Homo sapiens: one gene and its partners. The protein of the gene in region 1 purifies or fractionates together with the protein of each later gene. This does not show direct contact. Each region holds a gene or a part of one and is shown in the gene's direction. Other genes may lie near its edges. The genes, in order: MMAB, PSMG2 and TPD52L2.

Evidence for each region.
Region 2: the proteins of MMAB (region 1) and PSMG2 purify together in Homo sapiens (co-immunoprecipitation; one large-scale study listed by IntAct). This does not show direct contact.
Region 3: the proteins of MMAB (region 1) and TPD52L2 fractionate together in Homo sapiens (co-fractionation; one large-scale study listed by BioGRID). This does not show direct contact.

Annotation. Positions count from the first base shown.
Region 1 is NC_000012.12:109,559,963-109,563,612, reverse strand, and holds part of MMAB (corrinoid adenosyltransferase MMAB precursor), read left to right. Parts: intron 1-1,760; coding exon 1,761-1,833; intron 1,834-2,095; coding exon 2,096-2,193; intron 2,194-2,283; coding exon of another isoform or gene 2,284-2,370; intron 2,371-2,508; coding exon 2,509-2,573; intron 2,574-3,650. UniProt on the Homo sapiens protein: Converts cob(I)alamin to adenosylcobalamin (adenosylcob(III)alamin), a coenzyme for methylmalonyl-CoA mutase, therefore participates in the final step of the vitamin B12 conversion.
Region 2 is NC_000018.10:12,716,489-12,720,138, forward strand, and holds part of PSMG2 (proteasome assembly chaperone 2), read left to right. Parts: intron 1-2,028; coding exon 2,029-2,147; intron 2,148-3,650. UniProt on the Homo sapiens protein: Chaperone protein which promotes assembly of the 20S proteasome as part of a heterodimer with PSMG1.
Region 3 is NC_000020.11:63,871,728-63,875,377, forward strand, and holds part of TPD52L2 (tumor protein D54), read left to right. Parts: intron 1-1,940; coding exon 1,941-2,089; intron 2,090-3,650.

The DNA of each region.
Region 1 (3,650 bases):
CCCTGGCCACCTAATCTCCAGCTGGGTTAGGCACTGCTCCTGGATTTCCACATCCTCTAACCACAGGCATCACAAGGGGTGTTAACCTGTTCACCCATCCACCTCCCACCCAGCCTTGGCACTGTGAGGGCGGGGACAGTGTCTGGTTCACCTGGGAGCCCCGCCTGGCCTGGTAGCCGCTCGCAGGGCCTGTGGATGAGGCCGGGCAGCAATGCCACTGCTTTCCTCATATCACCCATTTCACCCTCACAGACACCCGTGAGGTGGAAGTTAATGTCCACAGCTTATAGGGAGCCAAACTGAGCCTCAGAAAGGCTGACTTGCCCAGCCCCCACAGCCAGGCATCAGTAGAGCTGGAATCTGATTCCCAAACTGGTGCCATTTCTCCCCAGCCCTTGGGGTACACGCTGCACGTGGCCAACCAAGTGGGTAGTATTATCACTCCCGCTTTGACTGTGAAAGTGCAGAGACCCCAAGCAGGGAAGCAGCTTGCCCAAGGTCTGCTGGTCAGAAGCCCTGGGAAGGTTCCAGCCCAGTGCTGGATGGGCAGCCTCTGCTCTCACACACCATGGCCTGCTTCTTGAATGCTGTCACAGTGGCCATCTTAGGAGAGGTCAGAAGTCGCAGACCTTCACCCTCCTGGTAGCCCACCATCCAGCTTGAGTGGACCCTGGCTGGGCACAAAGTCAGAGGTGGTACTTGTGGTCTTCACATGCATGAGAGCTGTTGGACATTTGTCATGCAGGGGCCTGGAGTCCTGCAGCAGACCTTAACAGACCACTTCTGTTCCAAGCAAACCCACTCCCCACCTGGACAGAGCACAGGCCTCACCCAGCCAGGCTTCCTGCTCCCAGAATCCCCACACGCCTCGGCTGACTACATTCTCCAAGCTCCTTGTCCTTTAGAGTTTAGAAAGCACTGTCACATTTGACCTCTTGGCCCAACTGTTACAGGTTAGAAAACCAAAGCTGTCAAATGTTGAGAAAAGAAGAAAACCTCACAGGGCCTAGGTGCACAGGAGACGTGGACAGAGCCCAGACGGTTCCTCTTGACTGTCCCTGGGTGTGTGATGCGTGTCATCTGCTTAACCCAGCTGCTGCCCCCATGGGAGCCTTTTCCTCCCTCAGACTGCAAAAGAGCCACACCAGGTCCCCCTCAGCAGGGCTGGGTGTCCAACGAAGATGTTGTGCTGAAAGTTCAGAGTTTGCTTTCAAATGTCAGCCAGTTCAAGGTCTGATAGCCTGTATTAGTCTGTTCTCGCACTGCTATAAAGAACTACCTGAGACCGGATAATTTATAAAGAAAAGAAGTTTAATCTGCACATGGTTTTGTGGGCTGTACAGGCTTCTGCTTCTGGGGAGGCCTCAGGAAACCTACAGTCATGGCGGAAGGCAAAGGGGAAGCAGGTACATCTTCACATGGCTGATAGGAGAGAGAGAGTGTGAAGAGGGAGGTGCTACACACTTTCAAACAACCACATCTCATGAGAACTCTATCACAAGACAGCACTAGGGGGCTGGGGCTAAACCATTCAAAACTACCCCAATGATCCAATCACCTCCCACCAGGCCCCACCTCCAACTCTGGGGATCACAATTTAACATGAGATTTGGATGGGGACACATTGCCAAACCATATCACAGCCCTTCATGAGCTAGCTGGCACAGGCTTTGCCGGCGTATTAGGTGGCGCCTCTGCACATTGTCTCTGTCCAGCCCATCTCACATAGATCTTGACTGTCACTTTCTGTCGCCCCCCAGATCCAGTGCACATTGCAGGACGTCGGCTCGGCCCTGGCGACACCATGCTCCTCGGCCCGGGAGGCTCACTTAAGTAATTCTCAAACTCCTGTGGGTGTTCAGAGGGCCCTAGGGTCAGGGGACTCTCCTAGGGTCACCATCTGGGATCCCAGGCCCCCAGGGACCCACGGGTGGGTCAGTTAGCCTTGCTCGTAGCTCCTGGGAGGGAAGGTACCTTCTGAGCCAGTGGAAGCAGTCTGCGGGACACCCAGGTGGAAGGGCGGCGGGGGTGGTTCCCGCCATGGTCTGGTGGGTGATGGCCTCATGGCAGTTCCCTCTGCTCCTTGGCTCCTCAGAGTATACCACGTTCAAGGCGGGGCCCATCCTGGAGCTGGAGCAGTGGATCGACAAGTACACCAGCCAGCTCCCACCACTCACGGCCTTCATCCTGCCTGTAGGTACTGGGCAGGCTTAACCGGGGGCGGCTGCAGGCAGGTTCAGTGACAGACACACATGGGCTCTGAATAAATCCCTCTTTTCACAGTGACAGACGCTGTCCTCCAGTTCCCCAAGTCCCTCCAGGTCCTCACCGGTCCCTCCCAGCCCTGCCCACTCTGGAGCAGCGTGCCCGGTGGGTGTGCCGTGGCAGGGCTCCTGGAGGCAGAACACTGCCCGGTTTGGGGGGCAGGGCTGGACTTCAGAGGAGCTCCTGTCCGCAGTGGGCACACCTTTCCCACCCTGCTCAGGCAATGTCCCTTTCTCCTTTCAGTCGGGAGGCAAGATCAGCTCGGCGCTGCATTTCTGCCGGGCCGTGTGCCGCCGGGCCGAGAGACGGTAAGAGGGCTGGAGAGAGGGAGAGGGCCCAAGGGAGAGGGAGAGGAACAAGGGGGAGGGGGGAGGGAGAGGGAGAGGAGGACGGAGATGGGGAGAGGGAGAGGGGCCTCTGCACAGCGGGCAGGAGGCAGGTACAGCAGGGCCATCTCTGAGCCATCCAGCCACACATCAACAGACCTTGTCTGGGCCCCTCCACTGTGCCAGACGGGGACCAGGACAGACCAAGTCCCTGTCCTCAGAGCACCATGTTGTGAAGTGGAGACAGTGACATGTGACCAAATAGACTATCAGACAACACAATTGCACCTTGTTTGTGAGCCCTGTATTCTGAGAACAGCAGGAAGTTATTGCTGGGTTCTCAGCCTCAGCCATCTTGGGGACAGGGGTAGACATGAAAGGACCCTGCTGGCTGCTGGGTGCATAAGGCTCCTGAAAGGCCTGCATGGCTGTGGGGAGCCCAGGTGGACGTTGTCAGCAGACTAGCCACCACCTCCTCCAAAGCTACTGACAGCCTTTTCAAGGAATCTTTAGAAGAAAATGAGCAAAGTCTCTATCTACACCACTCAGAGACCAGGCTGCCAGCCAGCTTTACAGAGAAGAGAAAGCAAGCCCTACTTTGATCCAATGGACTGGCACTTTATGTTCATAATTTCATTTACTCCTTGTTGATAGCCCTGGGAGAGAGGTGGTGGTGGCCTCTGTTTTACAGGAGTCAGGAAGCTGTGGCTCAGAGAAATGACACCATGGTCACGGTCCCCCACATGGTTGATAGCAGAATCCAGATTGGAGTCCACGTCTGTCTGGGCCAAGCCTGAGCTCTTCCACGGTCCCACACCACTAAGGTTTTGTTCTTTATGAAAGGCTCTCGGGCCCAGATAGCTCCTTAGAGATCCCAGGTAACAGAACAAGCTTTGGCTTCAAAAGAAAAAACTGTCATTTGTACAAAGCCATCCATCAGCAGTGCTCATAATAGCAAGAAACTGGAAACAACCCAAAGGCCCCGAAAACAGGCATGGCGGAGCAGCTGATAGGTCCTCCATGCAGCAGAGAGTTACGCAGCCATGGCAGTGGCAAGGT
Region 2 (3,650 bases), on another chromosome or scaffold:
GTTCACGCCACTCTCCTGCCTCAGCCTCCCGAGTAGCTGGGACTACAGGCGCCCACCATCACGCCCGGCTAATTTTTTTGTATTTTTAGTAGAGACGGGGTTTCACCGTGTTAGCCAGGATGGTCTCGATCTCCTGACCTTGTGATCTGCCCGCCTCAGCCTCCCAAAGTGCTGGGATTACAGGCGTGAGCCACCGTGCCTGGCCACAAGACTAATTTCAAAATAGCAAACATTTATTGAGCATTGATTCTTTGTGCTGATACTGTTCTAAGTACCTTATATTTATTACTTAATCCTCATGACAAACCTATAAGACAGATACTAATATTATCCTTATTTTTCAAAGGAAACACTGAAGTACAGAAAGATTAAGCAATTGCCTGACACATGATCTTAGGGAGGCAGGACCAGCACTCTAACCCAGGCAGCCTGGCTCCAGAGCTTGCCTTTTTTCTTTTACTTTTTTTTTTTTTTTTTTTTTTGAGACAGGGTGTCACTCCACCCAGGCTGGAGTGCAGTGGCACAACTATGGCTCACTACAGCCCTGACCTCCGAGGCTCAAATGATCCTCCCACCTCAGCCTCCTGAGTACCTGGGGCTACAGACGTGCACTACCATGTGTAATAATTTTTTTTTTTTTTGTAGTAACAGGGTCTCACTATATTGCCTAGGCTGGGCTTTAACTCCTGGGCTCAAGTAGTCTGCCCACCACGGCCTCCCAAAGTGTTGGGATTACAGGAGTGAGCCACCTTGCCTGTCCCAGAGCCTGCCTCTCTTAACTGCTGCACTAGACTACCTTCTTATTTTAAAAGTTAGCCTGCATTTCTCTTACCTGCATTTTAAATTTTATTGAGTAGTTATTTTATGAGCAGTCTTTGAAAAATTTTCATAAAGCGGGCTCCCCCTGAAATTTTATAACCCACATTCCAGATTTACCAGCTGTGAATGTCTTGCCACACCTACTTGATCTCTCGCTATGCGCGTACACAGTTTCCTTCTTCGAAACAATCCAGAAGTAGGCTAGCAATGGTCACCCCTACATACTTCCGCACACATCTTTCAAGAACAGGACACCATTACCACACCCAAGAAAACCAGCATTTAATGAATTTATTCAGGAGTATCATCCAACATACTCAAATTTCCACAGCTGTTCCGAAAGTATCCTTCAATTCTGGATCCATTGATGGTTCACAGGTTGTATTTGGCTGTTACATCTTTTTAGTTGTTATCCTTCAGAGTAAAACTGGCCTGCCCCTCTTTCTTTCTTTACAATATTGACTCCTTTGAGGAACCGGGGCTGGATGTGGAGCATTCTCCATTCATCTGATTGTTTCCATGTGACCAGATTCGGGTCACAAATTTCTGGCAAGAACCCTTCACAGATGACCATGTATTGGTTATTAGGTAACAATAGATTACTCAAGTAGAGAACTGGGAAATTGTCCTTTGTCCATCACAATAGATTTTTTTTGAAATCTAGATTCCTCATGATTCATTGATTTCTTTTCTTTTTCTTTTTTCTTTTTTTTTTTTTTTTGAGAAAGTTTCACTCGGTTCCCCCGGCTGGAGTGCAATGGCACAATCTCGGTTCACTGCAGCCTTCACCTCCTGGGTTCAAGTGATTCTCCTGTCTCAGCCTCCTGAGTAGCTGGGATTATAGGTGCCTGCCACCATGCCCCGCTGATTTTTTTATTTTTAGTAGAGATGGGGTTTTACCATGTTGGCCAGGCTGGTCTTGAACTCTTGACCTCAGGTGATCCGCCTGCCTCCCAAAGTGCTGGGACTACAGGCGTGAGCCACCATGCATGGCCATTGATTTCTTAATTATAAAGATACATTAGATAATTCATTGCTCTTTATCATTCACTTTCGGTTTAAGCACAGTAAGTGGATCTGAAAATAATTTCAGTATATATAAATTATATATCATTATCACATAAAGTTGATGAAATAGTATATAGAATGTTTGTATGCTCTAAGACTAACTTTTAGATTTTCTTTTTATTCTCTCAATGGTGTGCAAAGTATAAATCAAAGCCATTCTGTGAAAAACTGCTTTCCTGGGTGAAAAGCAGTGGCTGTGCCAGAGTCATTGTTCTTTCAAGCAGTCATTCATATCAGCGTAATGATCTGCAGCTTCGTAGGTATGTTTCTGCCTCTGGAAAGTTATTTTTGGTATGGTTTATACTATGATAATTTCTCTATTAAAAAGTTAAACTTTAAAAGCCACGTAGATCCTTACCTCTTCTTACTGGAGTTTAGAAAGAGGGGGGTAAGAGAAGGTCAGGAGATGGGAGGGAGTACAGTTAGGCAGATCTTTTCAGTTCCTGTGAGCTTAGTAGAGTTGGGGCATGGGGAAGACATCGTGTAGAGAGAGAGAGTTTGGGAACCATGTTTTTAGTGTTTCCCGTCACATACATGGCAACATCACAGAGCTCAGCTAATTGAAGAGAATAAGCAGAAAAGGTACTCAAGATTTATAAAGTTGCTAACTTTTGAAAGGTTAATATTTTCAGTTATTTCCATATGTTACCTTGAAAGATTAATATTTTCAGTTATTTCCATATATGCTACCATTTTTTAAAAAACATTTACTTTTTGTAGAGACAGGGTCTAGCTATGTTGCCCAGGCTGGTCTCGAATTCCCAGGCTCAAGCAGTCTGCCTGCCTCAGCCTCCCAAAGTATTGGGATTGCATGTGTGAGCCCCCCGCACCTGGCCACATGCAACCATTCGTATTTGCAGAAATCCACTTGCCTAAAGGGTAGCTCCCTGGCATGTCAGAGTGAGTTCTTAAATGTAAGACAGAGTATCCCAGAAATAGAACTATAAGCTATCATTACCACATAAAGTTGATAACATATCATATAGAATACTCTTATACTCTAAGATGTAGCTTTTATTTATTTATTTTTGAGACGGAGTCTTGCCCTGTCACCCAGGCTGGAGTGCAGTGGCATGGTCTCAGCTCACTGCAACCTCCACCTCCTGGATTCAAGCGATTCTCCTGCCTCAGCCTCCTGAGTAGCTGGGATTACAGGTACCTGCCGCCACGCCAGACTAATTTTTGTAATTTTAGTGGAGGCTGGGCTTCACTGTGTTGGCCAGGCTGGTCTCAAATTTCTGACCTCAGGTAATTCGCCTGCTGGGTCTCCCAAAATGCTGGGATTACAGGCATGAGTCACTGTGCCCGTCCCCAGGATGTAGCTTTTTTTTTTTTTCCTCTTTTTTTTTTTGAGACGGAGTCTTTCTCAGTTGCCCAGTTCTCAGTTGCCCAGGCTGGAGTGCAGTGGCGCAATCTCGAGTCACTGCAACCTCTGCCTCCTGGGTTCAAGCGGTTCTCCTGCCTCAGCCTCCCGAGTACTTGGGACTACAGGCGCATGCCACCACACCCGGCTAATTTTTTGTGTTTTTAGTAGAGACAGGATATTGGCCAGGCTGGTCTCGAACTCCTGACCTCAGGTGATTTGCCTGCCTGGGCCTCCCAAAGTGCTGGGATTACAGGCATGAGCCACCACGCCCGGCCCCAAGATGTAGCATTTAGATCATTTATTTTTTATTTTTTATTCTTTTGGGGATGGAGTCTCACTCTGTCACCCAGGCTGGAGTGCAGTGGCACAGTCTTGGCTCACTGTAACTGTTTTAGAT
Region 3 (3,650 bases), on another chromosome or scaffold:
GGTTCAAGTGATTCTCCTGTCTCAGCCTCCCGAGTACCTGGGGTTACAGGTGCATGCCACCACGCCTGGCTAATTTTTGTATTTTTGGTAGAGACGGCCTTTCATCATATTGGTCAGGCTGGTCTCGGACTCCTGACCTCAGGTGATCTGCCCGCCTCGGCCTCCCAAAGTGCTGGGATTACAGGCATGAGCTATCGTACCCGGCCAAGAAAGAGAATTTTTAAAGAGAAGCTAGTCATATATGAGCTGAAGATACTGAGAACTCATTCTAAAGTGGTAAAGCTTTGAATGATGCCCCTTTCAGAGGTCATGTTCTTTTTTTTTTTTTTTTTTTTTAAAGACCTGAGAAAGTTCAAGTCTTCATGATCAGGAATCTTTCTGTTGCTCAGTTCTAACTACGTTAAGCACAAAAGATAATTTACCTTTTGGTTCGTGTAACTGACTCTTGCCAAGGTTTGGAACTGACCTCAGGAACACAAGTGTTTTCTTAAGGGTGTTTTTTTCTGTCACCTGTGTCACTGTCCATCTGCCTCCTCCTCTCTGCATATGGAATTCTATGAGTGCAGACGGTGCCCGGCTGCCAACAGTTCCAGCTTCTATTGTCCAAGCCCAGACTGAGAGCCCTGAGGGAAAAGGATCCTCACTGTTTTTTGTTTGTTTGTTTGTTTTTGAAACAGTCTCGGTCTGTCACCTAGGCTGGAGTGCAGTGGCATGATCTCGGCTCACTGCAACCTCTGTCTCCTGGGTTCAAACAGTTTTCCTGCCTCAGCCTCCCGAGTAGCTGGGGTTACAGGCGTGCACCACCATACCTGGCTAATTTTTGTATTTTTAGTAGAGACGGGGTTTTGTCATGTTGGCCAGGCTGGTCTCAAACTCCTGACCTCAGATAATCTGCCTGCCTTGGCCTCACAAAGTGCTGGGATTACAGGCGTGAGCCACTGTGCCCGGCCAGGGTCTTCACCATTTTTTTGTTGTTGTTGTTTTGTTTTGTTTGAGATGGAGTCTCGCTCTGTCACCCAGGCTGGAGTGCAGTGGCACAATCTTGGCTCACCCGCAAGCTCTGCCTCCTGGATTCACACCATTCTCCTGCCTCAGCCTCCCGAGTAGCTGGGACTACAGGTGCCCGCCACCGTGCCTGGCTAATTTTTTGTATTTTTTAGTAGAGACAGGGTTTCGCTGTGTTAACTGTGTTAGCCAGGATGGTCTCGATCTCCTGACCTCGTGATCCGCCCGCCTTGGCCTCCCAGAGTGCTGGGATTACAGGCATGCGCCACTGCGCCCGGCCGGTCTTCACCTTTTTAATACCATGCCCAGTCCTAGTAAAGAGCTCGGACAAACCTGGCATGGTCATCCTGGGCCATTCCTCATGACCACAAATGGACATGGTGATTGGTAGCTCTCCCAGAACCATTTAGTTGTGGGGCATGGGATAGTTCCCTGGAGTCAAGTTCCTAGTACCAGATAAAAACAAATGTCTGCTGGCTGGGCGCGGTGGCTCACGCCTGTAATCCCAGCACTTTGGGAGGCTGAGGTGGGAGGATCACCTGAGGTTGGGAGTTTGAGACGAGCCTGACCAACATGGTGAAACCCCATCTCTACTAAAAATACAAAATTAGCCGGGCAGGGTGGCACACGCCTGTAATCCCAGCTACTTGGGAGGCTGAGGCAGGAGAATCACTTGAATCTGAAAGGCAGAGGTTGCGGTGAGCCGAGGTCGTGCCATTGCACTCCAGCCTGGGCGACGAGCGAAACTCCATCTCAAAAAAAAAAAAAAACCAAAACCCAAAAATCAGATGTCTGCTGTAGATGCTGTTATTCCTAGGACGAGTTAATGCTTTGGTAAGCGGAAAGTTCTTGTGTAACTCATGGCACTGTGCATGAGGATGTTAGTCACTTCCTGCAGTAGTGATGGCTCATCATGTCAACTGCATGCTTTGCAGGTGGAAGAGGAAATTGTCACTCTGCGCCAGGTCCTGGCAGCCAAGGAGAGGCACTGTGGAGAGCTCAAGAGGAGGCTGGGCCTCTCCACCCTGGGGGAGCTGAAACAGAACCTGTCCAGGAGCTGGCATGACGTGCAGGTCTCTAGCGCGTAGGTACCTGCCCCAGGCGCACCCCTGGGGGCTGAAGAGAACGGGCACCACACGTGCCCCGGCATGTGGGGGGGCGTCGTCATGCCCAGGGACGAGTTGCAGCCGTGGAGTTGAGTGGCCTGTTTGGAAGGATCCAGAGAGAGGCTCTGAGCCCTTGGCCCAGCGACTGTGCCTTGTTTGTTCAAAAAGCTTGGTGTCTACATGTGTTTTATTTATTTTTAAGTTTTTGTGTACTTTATTATTATTTTTTTTGAGACAGAGTCTCACTCTGTCGCCCAGGCTGGAGTGTAGTGGCGTGATCTTAGCTCGCTGCAACCTCTGCCCCCCGGGTTCAAGCGATTCTCCTGCCTCAGCCTCCCAAGTAGCTGGGATTACAGGCGCCTCCCACCGCGCCCGGCTGATTTTTTTTTTTGTGTGTGTGTGTGTGTGTGTGTGTGTGTTTTTAGTAGAGATGGGGTTTCACCATGTTGGCCAGGCTGGTCTTGAACTCCTGACCTTGTGATCCACCCACCTCAGCCTCCCAAAGTGCTGGCCACCACGCTGGCCTTTTTTTTTTTTTTATTATTATTCTTTTTTGAGATGGTTTCGCTCTGTCACCCAGGCTGGAGTGCAGTGGCGCAATCATGATTCACTGCAACCTCAACCTCCTGGGTTCAAGCAATCCTCCCAACTCAACCCCCCTCGTAGCTGGGATGACAGGCGTGCGCCACCATGCCTGGCTAATTTTTTCACGTTTTATAGAGACAGGGTCTTGCTTTGCTACCTAGGCTGGTCTCAAATTTCTGGGCTCAAGCAATCCTCTTGTTTTGGCCTCCTAAAATGCTTGGGATTACACGTGTGAGCCACCACATCCGGCTTATATACGTGTTCTAAAAAGGCAGACACACTGGCTAGTTGTCCTGGTGGAAAATGATAGGAAGACTGTTTCAGGGTCCAGACTTGAGAGAGCACTGATCAGGTCCTTGGCAAGAGCGGTTTTTCTGTGGTCCTTGTTGTGGGTGTGGCATGGTCACAGCCTCTGACCCAGATATGGCCATATGGGCCGGGCATGGTGGCTCATGCCTACAATCCCAGCACTTTGGGAGGCTGAGGCGGGTGTATCACTTGAGGTTAGGAGTTCAAGACTAGCCTGACCAACATGGAGAAACCCTGTCTCTACTAAAAAATAAAAAAATTTAGCTGGGCGTGGTGGTGCGCACCTGTGATCTCGGCTACTAGGGAGGCTGAGGCAGGAGAATCTCTTTAACCCGGGAGGCGGAGGTTGCAGTGAGCCAAAATTATGCCACTGCCCTCCAGCCTGGGTGACAGAGCAAGACTCTGTCTCAAAAAAAAAAAATATATATATATATATATTTATATATAGGACCATATGGTCCCACAACCCTAGGGACTCTGACCCTCCCCGATGACGACGTGGTCCTACATGACGACGTGGTCCTATAACCCTGGGACACCTGTCCCAGATGTCGCTCAGCTCTGAATTTGGGGAGTGCTGCTTTCTCACTTGGCCCTGTCCACGTGGCTTCTCTGAAACATACCCTTCAAGGTTGGGGTGGCTGT